Linked DNA regions of Homo sapiens. The protein of the gene in region 1 interacts with the protein of each later gene in a biochemical or structural test. Each region holds a gene or a part of one and is shown on either strand. Other genes may lie near its edges.

Region 1 (7,621 bases):
ACTGCCTCAGCGGTGTGTAGGTTTCCTCAAGTAGGTACAAATGGATACTTGTTGCAAAGATGTTTTCAATATTTATTAAATACTGAATAGTAAATATTTAAAATCTTAAATGTTTTGCAAAAATATTTCCACATAAAACATTCCAGTGGATTCTCACAACATTGAAAGGGAGAAAAAGCAGGTATTGGTTCCATTTATGGACAGACAAAACTGAGACTCCACAAGATGAAGTGATGCTTGGTCACGGGGCCATCAGCTGACAAATGACAAGAGCTGCAACTTGAACCAAGTTTAAAAAAAAACTCTGTTTCGGCCGGGCGCGTTGGCTCATGCCTTTAATCCCAGCACTTTGGGGGGCTGAGGTGGGCAGATCACAAGGTCAGGAGATCGAGACCATCCTGGCTAACATGGTGAAACCCCGTCTCTACTAAAAATACAAAAAAATTAGCCGGGAGTGGTGGTGGGCACCTATAGTCCCAGCTACTTGGGAGGCTGAGGCAGGAGAATGGCGTGAACTCAGGAGGCAGAGCTTGCACAGTGAGCTGAGACTGCGCCACTGCATTCTAGCCTGGGCAACAAAGCGAGACTCCGTCTCAAAAAAAAAAGTCTGTTTCCAGGTCCAAAGCTCTTTCCATGACAGTATGATGCCCTGCAACGTGATAGATGAAATCTCATTCATGTCTGCATGTGCCTGAGAGAAACGAGCTGTGCAGACTGATAATCAGGGGTTATGGCACATTCTGCCCACCCACGTCACTTGTGCAAGATGCTTAAAGGGCACAAGAATCCAGCTGGCCCCTAAGCTGCACACGGGCTACAACAGCAAGCGTCCAGACAATGAGTGGGAAGGGGCCGCTGAGTGGTCCTTGCACCCCCGCTTCCCTTACAGTGAGGACGGGCCCAGCACTTGGCTCCATCTCCAAACAGCAAGAATGATGTCTGCAAAGCAGTTTTCTCATTTGAAAATTTAAATTTAAAATGTGAAAAATAAATAATCTAATAATCAATATCATTAAGGCATTCTGTATGAGCTCCCACCTACAATTCTCAAATAAGCGTATCCCAAATGGCAGTTACCCCGCACAAATCGGAAGTCGCCCTGGAACCACGCGAAGCCAGCTCCGTACCTGTGCTGGAGTGTCAGTTTCATTGATTGGCTGCCCGTCGAACCTGAATCTGATCTGCCTCATTGACAAGCCCTGGAAAGGAAAAGCAGTGGCCATTAGTCTCACTGGCAAGCCCTGGAAAGGAAAAGCAGTGGCCATTAGTCTCACTGACAAGCCCTGGAGAGGAAAAGCAGTGGCCATTAAACATTTCCAGATACGGCTTAATTCAAAAACCAAATATTTTAATCCAAGTATCAGCATTCTGATATGCAGATTTATGATCCAGCTCAGTATTAAAAACTCACCAGTGGGCCTACAATCTCTTTCACGCGGTGCCTGACACCACTGCTTTCAGAACCCACTCTTCTACCATCTTCTCTCTGATGAGCTAAAACGGCTCATTTTCAACCCAGGTTTTGTTACACCATTGCATACTGGGAACTTCTTAAAGCCAAACCAGTGGCAGTTCAGTTTCAAAGCAGATAGGTAAGTGGTCCATGGCAGAAGGAAAGCCGACTTACATTCAAACACCAGAACACAAGAGACGTCCTAGACTAACATCCAAACTCATGTACCTCTAAAATCCACCCTTTCTTTACATACGAAACCCAGGTGAGGAAGCGTAACACGTCACAGTGACGCTAGCTCAGACAGCTGTCAGCCAGGAGGTCTCTGAGGAGCAGGAGAAAAGCTGGACTAGCATTGGTGATGTGCCAGGGGAGGGGAAATGAGCCGCCAGGTGAATACTAACCTTCCAGTGGCTAGCTTTTCAATCAAAGTTTCTCAGTGCAGTGGCCGTGTGGAATGGTCAATTCAAACACTGAATCTTCTCTGTCCTGGTGCCCTGACCTGTCCTGGGTCATCCCTCCCATCTTTCCAGAAGCCGAGTAGAACTTCTACAATGCTGGCACCACTACTTCCCCCCTTTACAAAGTTCTCAGCAAGGAACAGGTTGTGTGCCAATGAGGGACAGATAAGAAGGCTGCATGAGGCCGGGGAGCAGTTACCACCATGACTTTGGCCTTGAGGAGGGCAGCAGGAAGGAGAGCACGCAGCCTTTCTGCGTCCTGAGGGAATGGAGAAATGTGGTCAGGGGCAGAAACATTTCCTCAACGAGCAGTTTTGATTTAACTGAAACAGGACAGACGGGGTTAAAACGTGCATCTCTGCTCCCTCCTGAAACCCCACTGAAATGAAGTAAATGAAAAAGGCACAAACAGGAAGGACAAAGAAAACGGGAGTGGGGATGGGCAGATATGTCAATGCTGGGCTGAGCCAGAGGCTACTGAGGCGTGGACACTGGTGGTCTGATGGACACTGGACCAGGATCCTAGGGCGGAGGGACTGGGCACGCCCCAACCTGTGAGGCAGAGCTGTGGCAGGCAGCTGATTCTGAACAGCTGCCTGGAAGTTCACATGCAGACCCCTCAGGCAGGACCCCCACAACCCTGTGCCTCCCACGGCAGCACACATGAGATGTGCTTTCTGAGAAGGTGGGTGCGGAGCTCCAGGCGCAGGGCGGAAACAGGCCCACGAAAGCGCGTGCCCTCAACACTGTGCGCCAAGTCCCCTCTCCCCTCCAGATGCGCCTCCAGGAGGCTGGCCGGAGCCTGGAGGACTCAACTCTCAAACTGTAGCATCTGGGCGCCTCCAGAACCTGCAATCCAGACAGATCACCCCATGTGGATGCACAGCCCTGGCAGCACAGCCATCCATGTACACAGCTTTTCAGCAGCTTCTCGGTGCTCCATGCTTGCACAGAAGTCAGCCTGCGTGAGAGCAGTCAGGGAAAGGCTCACTGTGCAGCAGCCTAGAGAGGAGGGGAGGAGCGCAGAGGAGAACGGACAGGAAGGAGGCAGGAGAACACTCCCAACACAGGCACACACATGCCCACACCCACACATGCCCACACCCACACACATGCACACACCCACACATGCACACCCATGCACACACCCATGCACACACCCACACATGCACACACCCACATATGCACACACGCACACACCCACATACACACACGCACACACCCACACATACACACACACGAATGCACACATGCACACACCCACATACACACACATGCACACACCCACATATACACACAGGCACACACCCACACATACACACACAGGCACACACCCACACATACACACACATGCACAAAGACACGGACATACACACCACACACACCTACACTCACGATTCAAATTCTATGGGAAGTAAAAAATACTACTACCTTCAGAAAACAATCAATTGCTACTGAGGATGGGTGCGGTGGCTCACACCTGTAATCCCAGCACTTTGGGAGACCGAGGCAGAAGGATCACTTAAGCCCAGGAATTCCAGACCAGCCTGGACCACATAAGGAGACCCCATCTCCACAAAATAAAAAAATGAGCCAGGCGTGGTGGCGTGTACCTGGAGTCCCACCTACTCGGGAGGCTGAGGTGGGAGGATCACTTGAGCCCCAGGGCTCAAGGCTGCAGTGAACCATGATCACACCACTGCGCTCCAGCTTGGGGGACAGAGTGAGACCCTGTCTCAAAAAAAATAAGTTGCTACTGAGAAAAAAAGAACACTCAAAGAACAGAAAGAAAAAAGAACTTTTGGAAATTAAAAATCATGACAGAGATGAGAATGTCCACAGGAAGTGGAAAGATAAAGTTGAAATGACCTCCCGGAAAGAAGCCCAAATGCAACAATAAAGCCCAAAGCAAAATGGGAGAAAAATTATCAAATTTAAAATATCTAGGACAATGAGCAGCAGGAGGAACAGGAACTCCAAAAAGAGGGAACAGAGTCTGGAGAAGGATACAAATTATCAGAGAACTAACATAAGGCATATTTCCTGAATAAAAATAAACGTCCAGACCCATAAAGTGCCCAGCAGCATGAGTGAGAAAATCACCCACCTCTGAGGCACATAAGGAAACACTGAATGCCAGAATATGGTCCCAGATACTTCCAGGGAAAAACCAAGTTACAAACAAAGCACAGAGAATCAGAATCCACTGAACTTCTCACCTTTTTTTTTTTTTTTTTTTTTTTGAGACAGGGTCTTGCTCTGTCACCCAGGCTGGAGCAGTGATATGACCTCAGCTCCCTGCAGCCTCCACCTCCTGGGCTCAAACAATCCTCCCACCTCAGCCTCCTGAGTAGCTGGGACTATAGGCTTGCACCACCACACCTGGCTAATTTTTTTAATGTTTCGTAGAGACAGGGTCTCCCTGTGTTGCCCAGGCTTGGCACTGAACTCCTGACCTCAAGTCTTGAATTCCTGACCTCAAGTGATCCTCCCACATCAGCCTCCCAAAGTGCTGGGATTACAGGCATAAGCCACCATGCCTGGTGAACTTTTCACTTTTAACATTGGGAGCTATTCTCATGGCTGACCTCTGAAATAAAAAAGAAAAAAAAGTTTCAACCGAGAATATTACGTGCAGCCACATACTGAAGTGTGAAGGTTTATAAAAGCAAAAGTCACGTTCAGCCATGCAGTGTCTCAAAGACGCTGCCCTTCTGTGCCCGTTCTGACAAGACCCTGGAGGATGTGCTCCACCACAAAACACAAAAGGGAGGAGGACTAATCCAGGAAACACCCAAGAGAGAACCCAAGTTTCTAGAAGGATTTGAACAGGAGGCCCTGGACCACGGCTGAGCAGCCAGCCTCACAAGCAGCAGTGCAGGTGGGGCAGGAGGGGAGCTCCGGGAGAGCAGGGGGAAGGGCAGAGCCCCCCCCACATGTACACGGCCCCACACGCCTGCCATCCCGCAGCGCAGAGGAGAACATGGGCACCCGGGAAGTCACACACACAGTGGCCACGAGCCCAGGCAGTACAAACTCCAGCAAGGGCCAGGGCCCAGCATCAGGCAGAGGCTGGATCACGGGGCCTACACGGCGCCAGGCCACTCACTCTGCTGGGAAGACCGGGACCTGCGTGTCTGGAAGCTCAGTCTCACCTTTCGCAGGTGAAAATAAGATCTGCCCTCAGCAAACACAAAGAAAGGAAGTCAGGGGCTGCTTGCCAATAAAGAATGCAAGGCAGTCGCCAGTGACTGCCCCTATGAGCAGGGTATCCAAAGTGGGAGGGAAAGAGGAGGAAATCTAACTGAAAATCCACAGGCAAAAGAGTAAAATAAAAGGGCAACGAGTTGCTGTATTTTCAAAGCGGCTGAAGAAAAGCAGCCTCTAGGTCCCACTCAGGCAAGCAGGGCTCCCTGGGGAAGGGCGCCTGGCTGCAGGGCCGGGCCCCCAACACACCAGGCAGCAGCTGGTGGGCAAAGCCCATAAAAGTGGCCTAGAGAGGGACCCCCTGGCCCAGGGTGAGTCCGCCACAGCGTTACCAAGAACAACAGACACACACACACCACGTCACAAACAGCAGCCAGAAGGCATCCACCCAGCTGGGCACTGCCAGTGGGGCAGCTCATTATCCTGAAACTGGGGAAGAAGGGGAAAGAATCACGCGCTTTCTTGCCTTTCCTAACAAAATGGAAAACCACACCGCACATGAGGGCAGTGTCTCTCCAGGGTCAGGCCAGCTCATACGCGAGGACAGGGTGACAGCGGCGTGGGGCACACGCCACCTGCAGCCCCAGAATGGCCAGACCTGAGCAGGGCCCCCAAGAGCCTTCAGCATCACAGACTTCACAGATGTTAGTACCCCATGGAGAACACAGCACCCCGGGCAGCCGCCCTGTCAGGAAGAAAAACCCACCACACTTCTCCGAGCCTCTAGGTCCCTCCACCTTATAAAAGGCCATGGGGGACAAGCCCAGCCTGGACTAATTTTACAGCACAAGCCCCCGCCTGCCCATCCACGAAGAGGGCACCTCGGGCAGCTGCATCTGGGTCCAGCCCCGAGACGCTCGTGCTCTGGGGATGCCTGGAACGCACAGGACCAGTGCGCACACGGGGAGGCTCTGCGGGGGAGCAAGGTGCCGCACCTGCCTCTCGCAGTAGGCCTTCATCAGCTTGCTCAGCGGCGTGTGCCTCTTGATCTTGAACTGCACCACGGAGCCGTCCTGCCCGGCCACCTTCAGGTTGATGTGGTCATTCTCTGTCTTCACACCCTCCTGCAGAAGACACCAGAGACTGGCCTCAAAACTGTGTCTCAAAATAACCGCGACTTGAATGGGCAAGTCTTTAGGTAATTGTTGGCTTTTTAAAGTCATCAAAACCAACCTAATTCTTAAAATTCTCCAGCAATTCAGAGTCACTCGTGATGGTTTTATTTTTACACAGAATTTATTTTTAACTTCCACTTGTTAAGCATCCATGTGTAAAACAATGCAAGCCTAGGGTCCTCTGACATTGTTAATTCAAAGAAAAAAACAAAGTCTAGGGAAAAATAAGAGAAAATCCATCTTTATTTTAAAGTTATTCTTGTGGGCTGGGCACAGTGGCTCACACCTGTTATCCCAGTACTTTGGGAGTTGACGTGGGAGGATGGCGTAAGCCCAGGAGTTTGAGACCAGTCTGGGCAACAGAGCAAGACCCCATCTCTTTTTTAAAAAATTCTTATGAAACCAGTAAAAACACATATCCAAAAGTCATGCAGCTATACAGCACTAGTAAAAGAAACCAAAAACAGAAGAAAACATTTGTGACTCAGAGGAACCCTATGGGACATTCAAGTGGTGATTTCGGGAATCCAACTGAGGACGGCCACTCCCCACAGCAGGCGGCCAGGCTCCTTCTCGCTGCCCTGACATCAGCAAATGTGAGGGAAGCCACCTCCGAGTACTTTCTGGTTTCAAACTGTCCTATCTGAGCGGCAGTAGGTGGTACTATTTTATTTTTTAATTCATGCCATACTTGAAGCTACTCAACAATGGCACAATCGGGGTGTCTTGTTGCCTGAAAATGCATTTTGAGTTGAGGCAAAAAGCTGATGTCAAGAGACTGGGAGCCAACTTCGGGGCAGCTCAGTCTGAGCCGAAAAGTGGGGCACCCCTCTGCCGGCCTGCACTGCTGGGATAAAGTCGTTTGTGAGTGAAGCAATGAGGCAGGGCCCTCCGGCTCACTCTGAAAGTCAAGTCTGGGGCGTCCTGGTACCCTTTCACCCCATGCTGAGCTGCTGCCCTCAGGAAGCACTGTACATCACACGCCTGTTCTCTCCACTTCTCCTTTCCTTCCCTGGCTGGGAGAGGGACAACTGTCCCAGCGATGCCTAAATACAGGGAGTGGGATGTAGAAGGCTCGCCTGAGGGTGAACCCAGGGACTGCACCCATGCTTGCTTCCCTGGGGTATGCACCCTGGGGAGACCCTGGGGAGGCATGGTGCTCTGTCAAGGGAGCTAGAGTGGCCTGCAAGGGGCCTTGGCAGTGAGGGGCTCCAGCTGCGAGCCTGAAGGTGCGTGTCCTGGGGCGGCACTCACCCCCCGACTCCAGTCTTGGGCCAGACACCCCTGCCCACTCCCGGGATGCCAGTGGCTTGGCGGCAGCCTGAGTGGTGAGCTGGCACACCCCCATCTCCCCATCCCGAATGTGGCCTCCAGCACAGAGACAA
Region 2 (7,633 bases), on another chromosome or scaffold:
CAGACGGGGTTTCACCATGTTGGCCTGGCTGCTCTCGAACCCGACCTCATGATCTACCCGCCTCGGCTTCCCAAAGTGCTGGGATTACAGGTATGAGCAAGCGCACCCAGCCTCAGCTAAGTATTTGTCTTTAAATATTTGTAATTCACTCCTCATGTAATGATATAAATTGAGTACCTGTAGAAACCTGGGCCAGCTGTTACCAAGAATCTGTAGGATGTAGGAAAGAAACAAACAGAGGTATAAGACATTCAAATGTAATTGTGGACTTTTACTGAACAATAATTACAGGTTTCTGAAAGAAAAACAAATTATTCCAGATGATTTTTAAAATGTTACCAGGAGTAATAAAAAATTTCATTTTTAGTACCATCTGAAAGCTATTAAAGCTTCAGTAATTAATATCTACAATGGGACAACAATAGCAATAATATGTGGAACAACAATCATAGTTTTTTTGTTTGTTTGTTTTGAGAAACAGTCTCGCTCTGTCGCCCAAGCTGGAGTGCAGTGAGTGGCACGATCTCCGCTTACTGCAACCTCCGCCTCCGAGGTTCAAGCCATTCTCCTGCCTCAGCTTCCCAGGCAGCTGGGACTACAGGCGCACACCACTAAGCTCGGCTAATTTTTTGTATTTTCAGTAGAGATGGGGTTTCACCATTTTGGCCAGACTGGTCACCTCAAGTGATTCGCCCGCCTTGGCCTCCCAAAGTGCTGGGATTACAGGGGTGAGCCACCACGCCTGGCCCACAGCTTCATGACAGGTTTTACACATACACATTTCATGAGGGAATTGATGCTTTTTGTACAGCATTTCTTTCTGGGGATTCAATTACGACAAACACAACAATGAATACCAAAAACCTAACTAGATATACAAACCATTAAATTTGGGACCTAAAGAAAACGAAAGTTATCTATTCTACAATTCTCATTTAAACAGAGAGACCTGAAGCCCAAGGAGGGTTAACAATAAACTCGGAGATCTAATGTATAGCAAGCAAAGATAGATCTAAAATCTAGATCTCCTGTCCTTAGCCCTATATTATTTCATAAGATAACGTTACCCATAGAACGGTAATGTCAAGTTATAACATATTTTAACTGCTATCATTTTTCAGATGGTCTCTTTTATTTCCTACTGAAGTCTTGGCCCAAAAGGGGAGAAAAAGTCAAAAGAAGGGCACATAAGTATGCCTCAAGTAAAGCATGATACAGAAACCTCTCTTTAAACTATAACAAAAAAAAAAAGAAGGAAACATCTAAAAATCTAAATGGTTTGATTCAATTAGTTTCCTTTATATTTTTTATTTTAAAGTAAAATAACTAGGAGTATCTGCTAAATGACTGCACCTTAGCTTTATACAAGCAAGGTGCTTTTCTCTTAAACATCACAACAGCTCTCTCTCAATAATCTGTAGAAATGGAGTACCAAAGTGAAATTCGTTAAGATGTAACCTCTGCTGTAATGCATTTTTCACCAAAATGAAGTCACTTTGTTTATACCTTTCTTTAAAAACCAGTTCTATGTCTGGTGAAATAACTAGCAAACAAGTGGCCAACAGACACCAAACAAAAGTTAAGAAGTGACAGAAGGATCTGCACATGATATAGCACCCGTGATAAACAAGGAGACTCATTCTTCCTACTTTTTCCTAAAATATTATTTAGATTTATAAACACCCTCACCAATTCTTAGAATACTGTTGTGAATCTTTGGTCACAAACAAATGAGCAGGAGAGAGATGATAAAGTCATTTGTCCAAGGTTAAATGGCAAGAAAGTGTCCAAAATAAGATAAATCAAGGCTTTAGAAACAATCAATTTAAAATGATTGTAAAAGTAAAAGGGCTTCCTTCTTATCCATCTGTTTCACCTCACAAATATAACCAGACTAGGGTGAAACAATGTGGCTTATACTGACATGAAGATTTTTACAAAAATACATATAGTAATAAACTATCAAAAGATGTATCTTTACTGTAATAAAGCTAAGTCCAGCGTTACAGAAGTTGTGTATGGTAATCTCAAAATCACATTCAAGCATTTACAACCATCACACACACACACAACAAAAATGGGAAAGGAAATGGAACCTTAGCTTATGTTTTTCCCAGTTTGTTCTTTTTAGTTCAAGAGGCCCCTAAAACAAGAAAATTATAGATAAAATACCAAATGAAATAAAGTTTAGATTAAGTCACATTCAAAAGCTACAGGAAATCCTACAAAACGTAGTCTATGTCAGCTGGCATCTTACCATTCAAGAGAATTCTAAATTAATGCCGCACATAAATCAAGAAACAGGAAAGCTTACAACAACACAATGGAGTCACCCCACAACACACACACGAACAAATTAAATGAATACCTCATACTTTCTGGTATTTTTTGAATAATCAAAACTTAGGTTGAGAAATACCCATCTGTAAAGATCTATCTACTATAACCTATTTAAGAACTGTTGTAACAAATCTATTTCTGCTGCACTGAACAGATATTCCCACTATAGCACTGACACTGACTCTGATAAATTATCGAAGGACAATAGTAAAAACATCAGTTTCTTTTTAAATGACCAACAAGCCAACTCCATACAAAATCTGACGCGTCTGTATTTCAGCTGTTCCGCGGACTACGTTTCCTTGATCACAGCAGCAGCAGGCGACTCCCTAGCCGTCAGGGCTGACTTAGCGCCCTCCAACTCCCCGGGTCCGGGTTACCTTCATCACTCCATTGTCAAATCGCACTCCCACGCCTCGGTCCTCAGCCCCCATCCTGAGACTCTAGGGAGAGTCGGAAGTGGGAGAGAAATCCCCTCACCCACACTCCCTCACTGTAGGCTGTGGGTGTGTCGGTAGACGAATGCCTTGCCCAAACACAAATCGTCTGCGGAGACCCAGACCCTAAGTCACCACCGAGCCAGAGATAACCGGCCGGTCACCGACCCCAGCCTTCCGCGGCCGCAGCCCTTCCTCTTTCTCCCCTCCAGGCCGGCCCCTCCCCCGTTGCGCGCACGCGCGGCCTCCAATGGATCCCCTCCCCCCCCGTTCCCCTCACCTTAATCATTAGCCACCCTCTTCTCTTCCAGGGTCCGGGAATCACTGACCCAGGAAGGAAGACAGAAATGTAAGGCGTAAAGAGTAATGCGTCGAGAGCCAGCGATCTGCGCCTCAGACGTCGGCCTAATAGGCCCCTAGAGTCAAGAACAGTGTCTGTCACCGCCACCAAAACTGTACGTGCGGCAGCGCCTGGACTCGGCCCAGCTAAGCCGGCGTGGGTTCAGAATGCCTAATTTGGTCCCACAAGAACTCCTTCTCTGAAGCTGCGGGCGTTTCTACGCTGCGCAAACCGAACACCTCCTCGCCGTCGCCGCCACTGCCGCTGCTCCCCTACAGCCGCCGCCGCCGCTTCGCCGCCGCCGCCGCCTAACCAATTCCTCCCCTACCGAGGAGAGCACGACACTAGGGCTCTTTACGACAGTTCGGAAAGTGAGAGCGCAGTAGCCTTCACGCCTCCATTAACATCTGTTTGTTTCTGCGCTTGCTCGATTCCCGTTTCTCACCGTCCCGCCCCCTCGGTCCCGGCCCTCCCCCTTTGTACTGGTTTTATCAGTCTGTTGGCGAACTGAAAGGTGTCACAAAGCTCATTATTTAATTTTCTTTGGTGATTATGCGTTCAACATTTAAGCCAAATCTTGACTACATCTTGGTTCATTTTTTCGTAACTAAAAATTAACCAACTACAGAATTGATACATTTACAGATATACGTAAACAAAAACATCATGGGTTAGTGTCTTTCACAACAAATGATACCCATATCATATGCGCTAATGACATAAAGATCACGGCACCTCACTGTTAAAGTGAATTTGCTTCCGGAATCAGATCAAAAGTGGTCACATATCTCCTGCGAACTCGGGCTGTACAATCGCATAAGCCTCCTTGTTTATTTTATAAAAGTCAGTAGATAACAAATGCGTCATTATATGCATTAGGAGGATAGAGAGAGGATGAGCTTCAGAGTCCATCAGGCAGACTTCCTTTCAAAGTCCAGTGGTGCCACTTAAGAGTTCTCTGATTGATGAGATCCTTATAAATCTTAGTTTCCTCCTCTATAAATTGGGATAACGTATTTACCTCAAAAGGTTCTTGTTAGATTAAATGAGACAATTTATATAATGCTCTGAACATTACTTGCCAATTAAGTGTTCACTAAACATTAATTCCCTCCCTTTGCCATCAACTCATCTTTTTCAATACTTTTTTTGTTCACTCATATTTTCCGTATCATTCAGTAAGCAAATGATTTTGGCCGGGCACGGTGGCTCACGCCTGTAATCCCAGCACTTTGGGAGGCCTAGGCGGGTGGACTACCTGAGATCAGGAGTTCAAGACCAGCCTGGCCAACATGGTGAAACTCCTTCTCCACTAAAAATACAAAAACTAGCTGGGCGTGGTGGCGGACGCCTGTAATCCCAGCTACTCGGCAGGCTGAGGCAGGAGAATCGCTTGAGCCAGGGTGGCCGAGGTTGCAGTGAGCCATGATCAAGCCATTGCACCCCAGCCCGGGTGACAGGGAGACTCCGTCTCCAAGAAAAAAAAAAAAAAGGCTGGGCGCGGTGGCTCACGCCTGTAATCCCAGCACTTTTGGAGGCCAAGGCGGGCGGATCATGAGGTCAGGAGATGGAGACCATCCTGGCTAACACGGTGAAACGCTGTCTCTACTAAAAATACAAAAAATTAGCCGGGCGTAGTGGCGGGCGCCTGTAACCCCAGCTACTCGGGAGGCTGACACAGGAGAATTGCTAGGACCCGGGAGGCAGAGGTTGTAGTGAGTGCGAGATTGTGCCACTGCACTCCAGCCTGGGCGACAGAGTGAGATTCCGTCTCAAAACAAACAAACAAACAAACAAACAAAACACACACACACACACACACACAAATGATTTTAAAATTACAATAATGATCAAGGATAGCAGATTGTGTGGGAAAACTAAAAGAGCATTCGACTAGGATTTTCCTCAATCCTCCTATTTTCTCACTCTTAAACATAGAATTTTGCCCGGACTATCTTATCTTCTCCCTTGATTTTAACTGTTACTATCTCATGACTTCTCAAACCTGTATTTCCAGCTCTAACCTTTTTTCTGAAGCTTTTGACCTGTGTTCTTCAATTAGGTAGACACCAGCCATATGTGGCTGCTGAGCACTTAAAATGTGGCTAGACTCCCTCCTCTTCTCCCTCTCCCCTCCCCTTTTCCTTTTCCGTCTCCCTAAAAAAATAAATAAATAAAAATAATTGAGAAGTGCTTTAAGTGAAAAATACACATCGAATTTCAAAGGTACAATACAAAAAAAGACTGAAAAATCTCAGTACTTTTTAATATTTATTATATGTTGAAATAATATTTTGGATATATTGGGTTAAATCAGTGGTTCTGAAGCTGGGATGATTTAGCAACATCCGGAGACATTGCTGTTTGTTACAACTCAGGGAGGAGGGGCGTGGCTACTGGCATCTATCCACTAGGATAGAGGCTAGGGATGCTGGCCTCTCCACAACAAAGAATTCTTTGGCCGAAAATGTTAATAATGCAGTTGAGAAACCCCAGATGAAATAAAAGGGTGAGGGCTTCAACCCTGTTGGGATGCTGAAGGAAAAGAGTCAGTAGAAAAAAGGAGTGGAAAGATAAAGAAAATAAAGGGATGCGCAATGGAGAAAAATACCTATGGAGCCAGAGGAAATGAGATTTAAAGCTCAGATGGAAATTTAGCCTTGGATAGGAGAAGGGATGGCCTTTCCACTGAAACAGGTGAGAAGGAAGAAGACTGCAGTTTAGGTATGTTAGCTTCAGGGGGCAAATTGAGGGCTTGTTCACTGAATGACCTTGACTTCCTTATGAAACATGAGGTAGGGCCATCTATAAACATATGAGCTTTGGAAAATGCTGGGCGGAGAGTGACTAGAAGAGATTTTAAAAATCAGAATAGTCACTACCATAATGGCAGAAGGGCAACAAATCAAAGCCCAGAGCAGAAGAGGAGTGAGGTTGAAGGGACAGGTGTTACGCAGTTGTATTTAGAAGAATAATGGTAGATTCGGGTGAGAAGCGGCTCTCACCTAATTTACACATAACAATTTTCTGATTTCTATGCTTCTGCTTCCACCACTGTCACCACACCACCCCAAACTCAACCTTAAGCCACAGTTAGAGTATGGCAGAAACTGATTAGACATTAAATTGCTTAAATCTTTCAATGATCCTCCATCACCTTCAAGTTAAAAATCCTTAGCATGACAAATAAAGCCCTTCAAAATCCAGATTCTTCAGTATCACTTCATACCAGCCCTAGTTCCCATCCTGTCCCCTGACCCTTCCTGGACCTCGGTGGACTTCTCAAACTTCTTGTAATTCTCCAGGAAAAAAAAAAAAAATATATATATATATATATAATATATATATAAAAGAATATATAATATATATTATATATATAAAAGAATATATGTTATATATAAGAATATATAATATATATGTAAAAGAATATATATATATATTATTCCTATATAACTATCAATTTTCCCCATGAAGCTAACAAACCTAATTGCATTAGTACAATCTCACTTCTTCCCTCTCACATGTTTCAGTGGAAAGGCTATCCTTTCTCCTATCCAAGGCTAATTCTTCCATGTGAGATTTGGATCTCATTTCCTCTGCCTACATAAGAACTTTCTTCAACTGACCATCTTTTTATTTCCATTATCTTTCCTCTCTCTTTTTCTACTGTTTCTTACCCTTCAGAATACCAGCAAGGTTCAAGACTCACCCGATCTTAACTCCATATTCTTGTAGATATATGTCTCTCTTTTTCCATCTCTCTGCCTTTGCACAGTTCCTTCTGTCTCAAAATTCACCCCCTTTCTCCACATTTCCCACCCATGCTTTATCTGCTTAACAAATTCTTACCCATTCCTCCAAGCCGTCTTCCATGAAGCATTTCCTTACCGCTCTCCCCACCCCTTGAAATGGACTTACTCCAGTTTTAGTACTCTCTTCAAGCTTTATACATACATCTAAGTATTATGATTGTTTACATACATACCTGTCTCAAAACTTAAAATCAGAGAAAATGTCTTTCTCTCTTAAGTAGAAAAATAGCACTCAAATATTTATTGAACTGTACTGAATAAGAAGATTGGGATTCTAATCTCAATTTTGCCAGAAGAAACCAGAAATCCTTAATCAAATCACTTTAAATATCTGAAAATTAATTTTACTCACTTGTGGAGAGATCAAGTTTTTCCAAATGCACTCCAAACCAAATTCTGCTTTCCTCAAACTGCAGCCAAATAATGTTTACCAAATTAGTCTGCATATATGGGCCAGCAGAATCTAACTACTGCCTGACAGGAATTTGAGGAGTTTGGTCTAAACATGGAAATACTGGGCTGAATTAGTGAGTTACCTGCAATCAAGGGTAATAAGAAAATTTCTACAAACTATCAAAGTCAGAAGGAAAGACTGGTATGCCCATCATCCATTGCATAGTTCACAACTGTATAAAGTCTGCAAGTGAGAGTAACTAATTATGTGGTCAGCTTCGTGAGCTCTTTGGAAGAAATGGAGAAAAGTT

What was found. The genes of interacting proteins can lie anywhere in the genome.
Region 2: the proteins of SUMO3 (region 1) and RNF111 form a complex in vitro, tested with the Homo sapiens proteins (one study listed by BioGRID).

The regions. Positions count from the first base shown.
Region 1 is NC_000021.9:44,807,920-44,815,540, forward strand, and holds part of SUMO3 (small ubiquitin-related modifier 3 isoform 1 precursor), read right to left. Parts: intron 6,186-7,621; coding exon 6,057-6,185; coding exon of another isoform or gene 5,943-6,056; intron 1,200-5,942; coding exon 1,128-1,199; intron 1-1,127. UniProt on the Homo sapiens protein: Ubiquitin-like protein which can be covalently attached to target lysines either as a monomer or as a lysine-linked polymer. Does not seem to be involved in protein degradation and may function as an antagonist of ubiquitin in the degradation process.
Region 2 is NC_000015.10:58,983,493-58,991,125, reverse strand, and holds the start of RNF111 (E3 ubiquitin-protein ligase Arkadia), read right to left. Parts: upstream 3,464-7,633; 5' UTR 3,058-3,463; intron 2,989-3,057; exon of another isoform or gene 2,721-2,988; intron 211-2,720; exon of another isoform or gene 178-210; intron 1-177. UniProt on the Homo sapiens protein: E3 ubiquitin-protein ligase. Required for mesoderm patterning during embryonic development. Acts as an enhancer of the transcriptional responses of the SMAD2/SMAD3 effectors, which are activated downstream of BMP.